Regions from separate parts of the Homo sapiens genome. Here region 1 is linked to region 2. Evidence: fine-mapped expression QTL. Tissue or cell type: nucleus accumbens. Region 2 holds a variant in brackets; the other region holds the start of a gene. All regions are shown on one strand. Distances are from middle to middle.

The links. PIP is the estimated chance that this variant, and not a neighbour inherited with it, causes the effect.
Region 1: it holds the start of CHST7, and the variant in region 2 is fine-mapped to the expression of CHST7 in nucleus accumbens (GTEx, PIP above 0.99).

Annotation. Positions count from the first base shown.
Region 1 is chrX:46,570,763-46,576,548 of GRCh38, forward strand. CHST7 (carbohydrate sulfotransferase 7) reads left to right here and starts at 3,003. Exons shown (of 2, transcript NM_019886.4): 1 at 3,003-4,661. The coding sequence starts at 3,170. The coding sequence ends at 4,630. RefSeq lists silencers at 4,021-4,070, 4,191-4,250.
Region 2 is chrX:46,203,368-46,209,153 of GRCh38, forward strand. No RefSeq gene overlaps it. Among named protein-coding and RNA genes, the nearest start is that of LINC01186, 120 kb to the right of the region's middle. The variant CA/C (reference allele first, on the strand shown) is at 2,797.

The DNA.
Region 1 (5,786 bases), 370 kb after region 2:
GAGAAGACCCTGTCTATTTAAAAAAAGAAGAAGAAAGAAGAAAGAAGAAGGAGAAGAAGAAAGAAAAGAAATGTAGTCTCTCTGGCCCCACCCTAGGTGTAATGAATCATTTTCTGCTTTTTTTTTTTTTTTGAGATGAGGTCTCACTCTGTCACCCAGGTTGGAGTGCAGTGGCATGACCTCGGCTCACTACAATCTCCACCTCCTGGGCTCAAGTGATCCTCCCGCCTCAGCCTTCCAAGTAGTTGGGACTACAGGTGCACGCCACCATGCTTGGTTAACTTTTTTTGTGTTTTTGGTAGAGACGGGGTTTCACCATGTTGCCCAGGCTGGTCTTGAACTCCTAGGCTCAGGATACCCACCCGCGTCGGCCTCCCAAAGCGTTGGGATTACAGGTGTGAGCCACTGGGCCAGGCCCACTTTCTGCATTTTGACAGGAGCCTTCAAGCATTAAAGTTTGAGAAGCACTGGTCGAGGATCTATCTCCTTTCTCACCTGTCTGGCGGTCAGCAGGCTTGTTTGTCTGGGGGGTGGGGGGCCTCAGCTGGGAGGGCTTATTTTCTGAGCCATGTTGCTAACCCAGGCTTCTTCACGAGCCGATCTCAGGGTTCCAAAGAGCAGGATGAGGGCAATTCCCACAGCAGGAGTATTTTTCAAACCTTTGCTGTGTCATGTTTGCTACTGTCCCACAGGCCAATGCAAGCCACATGGTCATCCCAGAGTCAGTATGGGAAGGCATTGCCCAAAGGCAAAACAGAGGAGGGGAATACTTTGTGGTTATTTAAAAAACCTATCACACTTTCCACTATCAGAGTTGAGGCTTTTGGAGCGGAGGGCGGGGGGTGGGGGGAAGCGGGAAACACCAGCAACTATTTGCATTCTGCCCAGCCACACCTCTCCCCTCACACCAGCACAGAGCCACCTACTTGCTTAAAAGATGAGAGGAGGCCAGGCACAGTAGCTCAGGCCTGTAATCCCAGCACAAGGCCGAAGTGGGAGGATCACTTGAGCCCACGAGTTCAAGACCAGCCTGGGCAACATACAGACCCCGGTCTCTACAAAAAACAAACAAACAAACAAAATTAGCTGGGTGTGGTCCACATGCCTGTGGTCTCAGCTGCTTGGGAGGCTGAGGTAGGAAGATCGCTTGGGCTTGAGAGGTTGAGGCTGCAGTGAGTGGTGATAGTGCCACCGCACTCCAGCCTGGGTGACAGAGCCAGACCCTGTCTCAAAGCTTTTTAAAAAAGCCAGAGAGGAGGGAAAAGTGAAAACAGAAGGGAAAGTTGTAGATTAATATTGCAAAATCATATCCTTGCTATAAACGAGATGTGTACAGAGGTCAATGCATATATGAGTTTGGTAGTGGAAAAGTGAGAGATCGTCTAACATGGTTTCTTTATGAAGTAGGCAGTAAGGTCATGTGCTGAGAAGAGGTGGGTGGGGGAAGAGGGGTATCAGAAGTCTGAGGAGACTAGAGAAGGTTTGAAATCATCATAATGGAACTGGAGACTGGGAAGTGACATGAAGAACCTAAGATTTCAGCAACCATTTCAGGTTGATGATTATGAGGTTATCTTGATGCTGATCTGTTCTGTGGGCTCCCAAAGTGCTGAGATTACAGGCGTGAGCCACTGTGCCTGGCTCACACCTGTGGAGAAATGTTTCGCAGTGGTGTTTGCAGGCACAGAGAAAGCCAAAAGCAGGGTTTGGGGGATTTTGCTAGATGAGTAATGAAAAGGCAGAGGGCACGTGAGTTTAGCTTATTGGAGGGAGTGTTATTAAAATAATGGTATGGCATCTTTCAGCTGAATATGAAAAATTGAGAAGAAAGTGGGGGTGGTGGTCAAAAAGTGGAGGTTGGAGAATAGGGAAGATTTGAACAACTGGCTGGAAGAAGAGGGGAATTGTGGAAAGAAAACGAAATGCTTGAGTCAGTGGTTTCACAGGTGGAGTAGCTTCCGTGATGAAAAAGACCAGTGGAGAGCATTGCATATGTTCTCACTCTTCCAATTTGAACACCTTCCCCTGGTGGAGATAAGTAGATATGCTTTCTATGTTTTATTAACTTTACAACACCTTCCCCAAGCTGGTGAAAGGAAGCTCTCACTTCCTTATTCATTAGCCTGATGAAACAGAGCAAAATGTATCTTTTTTGGTTCTGTTTTGAATTTTAGTAACTCTAGTCTTCATCTGCCTGTTGGACTTCCTGTCTCTTTTTCATCTATCTTTGGGTACACATTTCTTCTTACGGGTCCTTTTAAACACCGAGCTCCTGAGAAAGGTCACCATTCTACCACTTTGATTCTGTAAATGTCTTTTGCTCATAGGTGTCAGAATAGGCTGGGTTATACTGTGGTAACAACCCCCAAATCTCGCAATCCCAGGAGGTACATGGGTACTAAGAATTATTCACATTTTACAAATGACCAAACTGGGCCCCAGAGTATTGGTAAAATGTGCAGAGCCCATCAGCTGGTGAAACCCTAAGGAACACAACACTTAGAATTTCACAAAGGCTAGACTTTATGAAATGTGCTGCGTGGATGCAGTAGTATCTCCAACCCCCCTGGACCGCTCTGCCACGTACAATCTTCTATCTTTCAGTCCGGAACTCAGTAACACCCACTCCAGGGCTGATGGGGGCGCTGGATGTATAGTGGCGAGTGTTTATCTGCCTAGGATAGCGATGGCTAGGCAGGGGACATAAAACAGAAGAGGCAGTGACCTTCTCCGGGTGGGGTCTATGGCCCTTTACTGGGTACATTCTGTACACACAGGCCCCTCCTTTGCCTGAAGTCATTGATGAAGACTTCATTACGGAGGGTTTGGGGAAAGGTGGGGGTCTGGCTGGGTAAGCCGGCGTCCCAGCCCCGCTACAGCCCCGCCCAGATCTGGCAGAGCCGTGGGCGAACCCAGGCGGGCAGAAAGGCGGGGCGGGCGGCTGCCAAGCCGGCCAATAGGCGGCTCTCCGGCTGCTAAGCCGAGAGGGCAGGGGCGCCGTCAGTAGCACCACCGCCTTCCAAGTTTCCCCTTGTGGATGCGCGGCCCCGCGGCTCTGCTCCTCCCGGCGCAGAGGGGCCGGGAGAGGCCACAGGAGCGGACCTGGCACGGGATTTCTGAGGAACGGGAGAAGACTGGCGCCCGACCCGCTCTGGAGGGTCGGTGAACGATGAAGGGCCGGCGGCGGCGACGCCGAGAGTACTGCAAGTTCGCGCTGCTGTTGGTGCTGTACACGCTGGTGCTGTTGCTCGTCCCCTCCGTATTGGACGGCGGCCGCGACGGGGACAAGGGCGCCGAGCACTGCCCCGGCCTGCAGCGCAGCCTGGGAGTGTGGAGCCTGGAGGCGGCGGCGGCCGGCGAACGCGAGCAGGGAGCGGAGGCGCGGGCCGCCGAGGAAGGGGGCGCGAACCAGTCTCCTCGGTTCCCAAGCAACCTCAGCGGCGCTGTCGGGGAGGCAGTGTCTCGCGAGAAGCAGCACATCTACGTGCATGCCACCTGGCGCACCGGCTCGTCCTTCCTGGGCGAACTCTTTAACCAGCACCCGGACGTTTTCTACTTGTATGAGCCCATGTGGCATCTATGGCAGGCGCTGTATCCGGGCGACGCCGAGAGCTTGCAGGGCGCGCTGCGCGACATGCTGCGTTCGCTCTTCCGCTGCGACTTCTCCGTGCTGCGGCTGTACGCGCCGCCGGGGGACCCCGCTGCGCGCGCCCCGGACACGGCCAATCTTACCACGGCCGCCCTCTTCCGCTGGCGGACTAACAAGGTCATCTGCTCGCCGCCACTGTGTCCTGGCGCACCCCGTGCCCGGGCCGAGGTGGGCCTCGTCGAGGACACCGCCTGCGAGCGCAGCTGCCCACCCGTGGCGATACGCGCCCTGGAGGCCGAGTGCCGAAAGTACCCGGTGGTGGTCATCAAGGACGTGCGCCTGCTCGATCTGGGCGTGCTGGTGCCCCTGTTGCGTGATCCAGGCCTCAACCTGAAGGTGGTGCAGCTTTTCCGCGACCCGAGGGCGGTGCACAACTCGCGCCTCAAGTCTAGGCAGGGACTGCTGCGCGAGAGCATCCAGGTGCTGCGCACCCGCCAGAGGGGCGACCGCTTCCACCGTGTGCTGCTGGCGCACGGCGTGGGTGCTCGCCCCGGGGGCCAGTCTCGCGCGCTGCCCGCCGCGCCGCGCGCCGATTTCTTCCTGACCGGTGCGCTCGAGGTGATCTGCGAAGCCTGGCTGCGCGATCTGCTTTTCGCGCGCGGCGCGCCCGCCTGGCTGCGGCGCCGCTACCTGAGGCTGCGCTATGAGGACCTGGTGCGGCAGCCACGCGCCCAGCTGCGCCGCCTGCTGCGCTTCTCCGGGCTACGCGCGCTCGCAGCGCTCGATGCCTTCGCGCTCAACATGACTCGCGGCGCGGCCTACGGCGCCGACCGGCCCTTCCACCTGTCAGCGCGCGACGCCCGGGAGGCGGTGCACGCCTGGCGCGAGCGCCTGAGCCGAGAGCAGGTGCGCCAGGTGGAGGCCGCCTGCGCTCCAGCCATGCGTCTGCTCGCCTACCCTCGCAGCGGAGAGGAGGGCGACGCGGAGCAGCCCAGGGAAGGGGAGACGCCGCTGGAGATGGATGCCGACGGCGCCACGTAGCCTCCCATCCCTGTCCCCGGCACGGATCCGGGTAAGGTGGCCCGGGGCAAGGCAGGGACCGGGACTGGTCTTCCGGGAGCCTGGAATGGCCTGGGGAGGGGGAAGTGTAGGGGGGAGGGTACCATGCTGGATCCCATTCTATCAGATCAGGTCCAAGAGGATGGGAAAGTCCTGCTCGTAGAATTTGGTAGATTCATCGGAATCTCCAGCTTAGCCTCGCGCCTCCTTAGAGGGAGATCCTGAGATGAGAGAGGATATTTAGGCGTGACTGAGGTGGAAGCCAGGTCTCTGCATTCCCATTCCCCTGTATGAAGTAGGAGGTTTCAGAGGGCTGAGGAGAGTAGAGAAGGTTTGAAACAGTCATAATGAGCCGTGAGACTGGGAATTGACATGTGGAGTATAGGATTTCGGAAACCATTTGAGGTTGATGATTATGGAGTTATCTTGATGCCAGTTTGTCCTGTGAGGAGACTTTGCAATGGTGTTTACAGGCACAGAGAAAGCCAAAAGCAGAGAGTTTGGTGGAAAGGCATTGATTCTAACCCTACCTATCCCTAATCTTTCTGTTTCATGTTTCTTCTCTGTCTGTTTTATGCGCAGGCTCCAGGGCTTTTCTCCTGAATTTCCAAACATGCAGGCACAGTCCAGCGGCTCTTGCAACACTTCTTGCACATTGTGTGTCTCAGGCGCTTGTGTAGTGAATAGACTTGCTTTCCCCTGGCTCATGTGCGCCTCTCTGTCTCCCCTCCCCCTCCTTCCCTCTCTCATTTCCCCTCTCCCTCTCTTCCTCTTCCTCCCCCTTCCCCTCCTCCTCTCCCTTCCCCCTTCTCCCTGTAGCTGGCGTTTGCAGGATATTTGACCATATCCCATTCACATCAGGTCACAAAAGCTGCCTGGTCAGCTTCCTCTAGTGTCGACAAGACCTCAGGGTTGGGTGTCCCCCACTCCACCCCATCCGTTTGACAGATGGAGCCTTCAATTGGCAGTAGCAGTTTGTGACTGCAGGAGGAGCTTTGTGAAAAGACACTGCCCCCTCTTTTTTGTTTTTCCATTTTTGTTTTTTGTTTTTTTCTGTATATCTGAAGATGCTAAAGTGGGGCTTAAACAGTCTCAAAATGTGTTCTGTGTGGGTCAGTGTATGGCCTGAGGGAAGGGT
Region 2 (5,786 bases):
TAGCCCCTGGCATGATCATCATGGTTGAAGCTGTGCCCAAAGCCTGGCCCTTGGCCTGAGGGGAAGTTGAGACAATCAGCAGTATTGGGAGATGAGGCAAAGGTGTTCGTGGGGGCTCTCAGGCAGTGGGAACAACGATGTGAGCCTTCACAGGGTTGCTCTAGCTTTGCTCCCTGGGAAGCAGGCTCTGAGATGAAGATCAGCATGCAGGACTTTTGGGAGGGAGTGCTCTTGGAATCAACTCCTATAGGAGAGGAAAGAAAGAAAGGATGCAGAATTGGGAGGAGAAAAGTGGAGCTGTGATTCATTCCCAACAGAAGCCTCAGCCAATCCCGCAGGAAGTTCTGAAGATGGGATGGTCCTTCACCTGATCTGGTGCTGGGTAAGCTGCCCAAAATCCGTTCTAGGGATTCAGGGCTGTGACATTGTGAAATATATATTTGGTCCTTGTCCCCACCCCCACCCCCATTTCCTGGAATCTCCAAGGTGCTGTCTTTTTATATGCTAATGTTGAATGATAGCTTCAGGGTGGGGCTGGTCACTGGAAAGACCAAGGCAGGATTAGAGGGTTGGGATTTTCAGCTCTGCCCCCAGTCTCTGGGGAGCGGGGAGGAGGATGAAGGTCAAGTTGATCGCCAATAGCTAATTGTTTCATCAATCATGCTTATGTAATAAATCCTCCATAAAAACCTTAGAGGACAGGGTCCAGAGAGCCTCCAGATAGCTGAACACATGGAGATTCCCAGAGGATGGGACATCCAGGAAGGGCATGGGAGCTCTGCAACGCTTCTCTCATACCCAGCCCTATGCATCTCTTCATCTGTATCCTTTGCAAAACCTCTATAATACACTGGTAAACATAAGTGTTTCCCTGAGTTTTGTGAACCACTCTAGCAAATTAATCAAACCCAAAGAGGGCGTTGTGGAAACCCCAACTTAAAGCCAGTCTGTCAAGTTTTGGAGGCCTGGACTTAGTACTGCTGTCTGAAGGAGGGAGGGGCAGTTTTGGGGACTGACCCCTCAATCTGTGGGATCTGACACTATCTCCAGGTAGATAGTGTTGAATTTGAATTGGAGGACATCCAGCTGGTGTGCACTGCCGAATTGATTGCTTACCTGGTGGTAAGGAGAACCCCCTTCTCCCCACATTTGGTCACAGAAATCTTCTGTGTTGATTGTTAAGTAAGAAAATAGAAAAAAATAATTTGAGTTTCCAAACAAGGGGTGAGGAGGAACTCTGGACAGGCCACAGGCTCAGGTGTCATTCCAACCCTGTAGCCTCTTTTTGGTTCTGAATCGCGTCATCACAAAGTTCAGACCATGGGTCTAGATTTCCAAGATCCACATGCCTTGGGTCTTGAGAAGGTCCTGATCTTCATGAGGTCTACAAGGGCAAAAGTTCCAGAAGTAGCAACCACAGATTCAGCTCATAAGCTGTTGAGAGCAACTCTCCAGTTGCAACAAACATGAAAATGAAAGGGACATCTTCCTTCAGAGGTAGCCTTCTTAAGCCTCTGCAATTCCACAGCAAGACGTATGACCACAGCCAGTGTGACACATAATTGAAAATGCCTTCTCATAAGAGAGAGTAGGAGACTTGTCAGCAGAGAGATACCATCTATATACAGCACAGAGTCCTAGACACACAGGGCCATGGGGAAATAGAAATTAAGAGATTCCAAGTGTATTGTTTAGGGGAGAAAAGAGCAATTCAAATAATATCTGGAGTCTGTGACTGGCATCATTACAAACACTTAGACTTTGCAAGAAGGCATCAATGTCCAGAATGACAATTTCAGAGTATGACCAAGGAATTTCCCAAGAAAGTTATGGCAAATACCCAGTGTCAACATTCACCTCTTGGTAGGGGATTTCCCCAGAGTTTAGTTTCACAGGTCACAGGCACTAGACAACTCCTATAGTTAGTCTAGTGTTTTGGAGAAGCTGAAACCCAGAAGAATGTTTTTGCCTCATTTTTCCTTCAGATACCACTGAGTCTCCATTATGTCTTTGGCAGTAGTAACCCAGGATTAGATAGGTTCTGAGATTTCATTTGGTTTGAGAAAACTGCTCTAGTGCTATAAATTGCTGGAAGTAATTAATTTTAGCCAGTGTTGTGATAATTTGTATTTCCTATTGACAATCTGAAGTCTTTAAAAGAGAGACAGAAGAATGGCTAATATAACTTCTAGGACCCAAGAAGATGACACCTATTCTTACAAAAGGCATTTTGGGCCATGTTGCTGGAGGTATTGATAACTCTGCCCAGACACTGAGAACCTTTCTAGCTGACAATGAGCAGAATAAGAAATGGACCGAAACCCATAATCTCTGGATTTTAATGTGAAGTTTTAATTTTTAGATTCTTTAAAAGTTGGACACATTAATTCTCCCTGGGTAATTAATAGTAGGAGGAAATGTATATTTGAATATGGGCTGTCCCTATATATTTCGGTGGAATATTTTTATGATATCATTTAACCTCACTGAAGACATTCTACTAGGCTGAGTAGGACAATGTGGTTGGACCTAATTTGCGAGACGAAGTAAAACAGAAGGTGGATTTTCAGCCATGAAACAACCTTAAAGTAAATCTAATTGATTTATCATTCTCAACCATTTTGGAACCTTCTATTGGCAAAATCTGTCCTGCCTATCAGTGGTCAAAGGACATCTCCACCAAAGCAGAAGTTGGTAACATGGAGGTGGTTTGACAAAAATAGGAGTAGGACAACTGACCTCTTCCAGTAGAGAGCTGGCCACACTACCGGTTGACCATGGGCTTGCCAGTTCATC[CA/C]ATGGCATACAAGAAGAAAATGTGGGTACAGTTATCATTATTGGAAAATTCATTGTTGTTACACATTTATGCCATGTGTTCCAATGTCAGTACAGCTAACATTTGAATCTTCCTCAGCCTACTCTTCTGTCTATATTCATTGGTACAGAGCTTAGGCATGGGTAAGAAGGGTGTTGTTTATTAACCCCTTCAATCCCAGCAGCTCTGATTATGTTATGTTGTTATGTTATTTGATATTACATATAGGAGGGAGAGAGAGAATGTTTCTGTGGTTCACAATTTTAGGCAAAGTCAGTGGTAGAAAATTCTCATATTCTCATCCTTGGAAAGTTTTGATTTAGGAAACAAAGTTAATCAAACCCAAGTCCAATGGACATGGTGAATGACTCTGGTGTGGGGAACAGGATTGCTTCTTCTTAAAATGGTTTTTAGAAAATGGTGTGAGAGGATGAGAGGAAAATGAAGAATGAGATGGGATTGAAAGGAAGTGGATGACTCTTATGACTATTTCATATAGTAACCCCACCACTGTTTCCAACAGCATAGTTTTAAACATATTTGGGTCAATGAAAGCATCTTCAGAATTAGTGTTTATTTGGTCTTTCAATGTGACTATTCTGAAACATAACACTCATTTGGACATTGAAATTCTATCTGGGATTCGTAAGGTCACCATATAATCTATCACCCCCAAAAGGGGTACTTTTGAGTGTGAAAAGTGTGCTAATAATAATTATGCTGGAACAAAGGCATAAATCAGGTATTTCCCAGGCAAACTAGAATATATGGCACCCTAGATATGTGTAAAAACACCATTGTCATTCCTTGTAGTCATCCTTTTAAATACCATCAAAAATCTCTTCTCAAAGAATCTCCATTGTGAAGTCCTATAAAAGAAGAAACATTGAAATCTCTTACTAATGTGGTATCATATTTAGATAGTGGGGAAGGACTTCATTCCTTTTATATCAGCTGTGTAGTGAACAAAAAAACAAGTATAGAAAAATTTACTCAATTGACTGAAATTTACTTGTTAGATATTTTAACTGTACCATTCCAAATGGCTAGTGGGGAATGATACGTCCTTCCTAGGTAGCCTGAACCCCTTGGCTTTGTTGGATCTAGGTAAATTGTCATAGTGTCCTCTAGCACTGATTGGGTGTGGTTGTGGTGAATGAACCCTGTAATGTGCTGCCCAGATCCTCCTTCAGAAATGAAGAACTTATTCTCCCAGCTGCTAGTACTGCCCGTTGATCACTCTCTGCTCTCAGCCACTTTCAGGGCTTGCCTTGGCTAAAAAAATACCCAAGGTCCAACAGGGGCAACACACATCCAATGTCTAAACAATGCAGCTGGTATAAAGGCCTAGCTCCCTTGCCTCAATTTGGGACGGCTCTAAAGAGCCATCCTAATACCAGAGCTTCCCAGAAGATCAGCCAAGGCCTTCATTGGGACCAGCAGTTTAACCTCTCCCTCTAACCAGTCATGTTTCCATCCCCTTCTTTCTACAGGTATTGGCTCCAAGAGCACTTCCTAATAAACACCCTATATGCTGATCTCCATCTCAGAGTCTCATCCCTGGTGGCCTCACACTGTGACAGTCATCTTTAGTTCTGATGTTAGTCTAACATTTGATCTGTTCTGATCTCAAGTCCTCAATAAAAAATTCAGATTTATTCTTGGCTCACAGACTTACTTTTTATGAATGTCCTAGATGGAGACACTAAAGGTCTCTGCTCTGAAAGCTGTCACTCTCCTTTGAGGATATAAGTTTAAGAAGGAATAACAGATATATCTGCACACCTTTAGCAATCAAACCAAACCCAGTATGCATCAAACCAAACTACAGCAAGCAGTTCTTTGAAGGTTGGAAGCCATTTACTTCATCCGAATTGTGGGGTCCTACTTCTAGTCTCTCCATAAGGCAGAAACTGTCCTACTCAGGGTGGATCCCTAGTGCCTTGCACAGAGCCACAAACAGAAGAGGCGCTTGGTATGCGTTTAGTGAATGAATGAATGTATGCCTGGGTAGAAAGATGAACCAACCAATGCAGTCCCCCATGGCAGTGCTTGAGAGCCCCTAGAACTGAAAATGACCAACTCAAGGTAAGGAGATGGGAGGGACAAGAAGGATCAAGGGAATGAGGGGCAAATAGGAAAGTCCATAAGGAGGAAACAGAAGATTGAATCAAATCAAGCCAGTCTTCTACTAAAGGAGAGTTCTGCAACCTCAACCACTCTTTAACTTTCTCTCACCTTAGTCACTTGTCACCACTTCCTCACCTCCATTCAACCTACTAAACTATAGCAGCATATTATAGTCCCTGCTTTATTGCTACATTATTTGTGGCATTGTGAGAATTTGTCTGTGGCACCAGAATAGTCCTGGCTAACTCTAAATTCTTTTTATAGTAAGCCTCTTCTGCAGCAGTTGAAATTGAAATTAGAAACATGCGGGCCTTGAGCACTAAGCTGGGGCTGATGAGCAGGAAGTGGTAAATGAATAACTACCTTATTAGATCATATTTTCATTGTACAATTCCTTAGAACAAAGACACTTGCAGCCACAAGACTTGCTACCTAGTGATATAGTTGCGCTGAAGCCAGTAATAATTGTACCATGCTAAAAGCCTATTCAAATCCATCATTGGGAAATATAAGGAAACTTCAGACACTTCAGGATTTACTATATTTTTTCTGGATAAACTATGACTTAATAAGGGAAGTTTTAAAAGTGATTCAGGGCATCAACTAACATGACAGAAAATATTTTAAACAATGGCATAAATGGATCAGTGTTCTCTTGTTTAAAACTAAAATCTATTCTTTTTCTTTTTTTCTTTTTTAAGCGAAAAGACATTTAAGACAAAAGCCTTTAGGGGTCCTTTCAAATTCTCAAATGTCTGACTAGGGTTTCAAATAACAATGGATTAGAGAAGAAACCTCCCCCAACTATACCATACTTAAACACATTAATTATTACACTAGG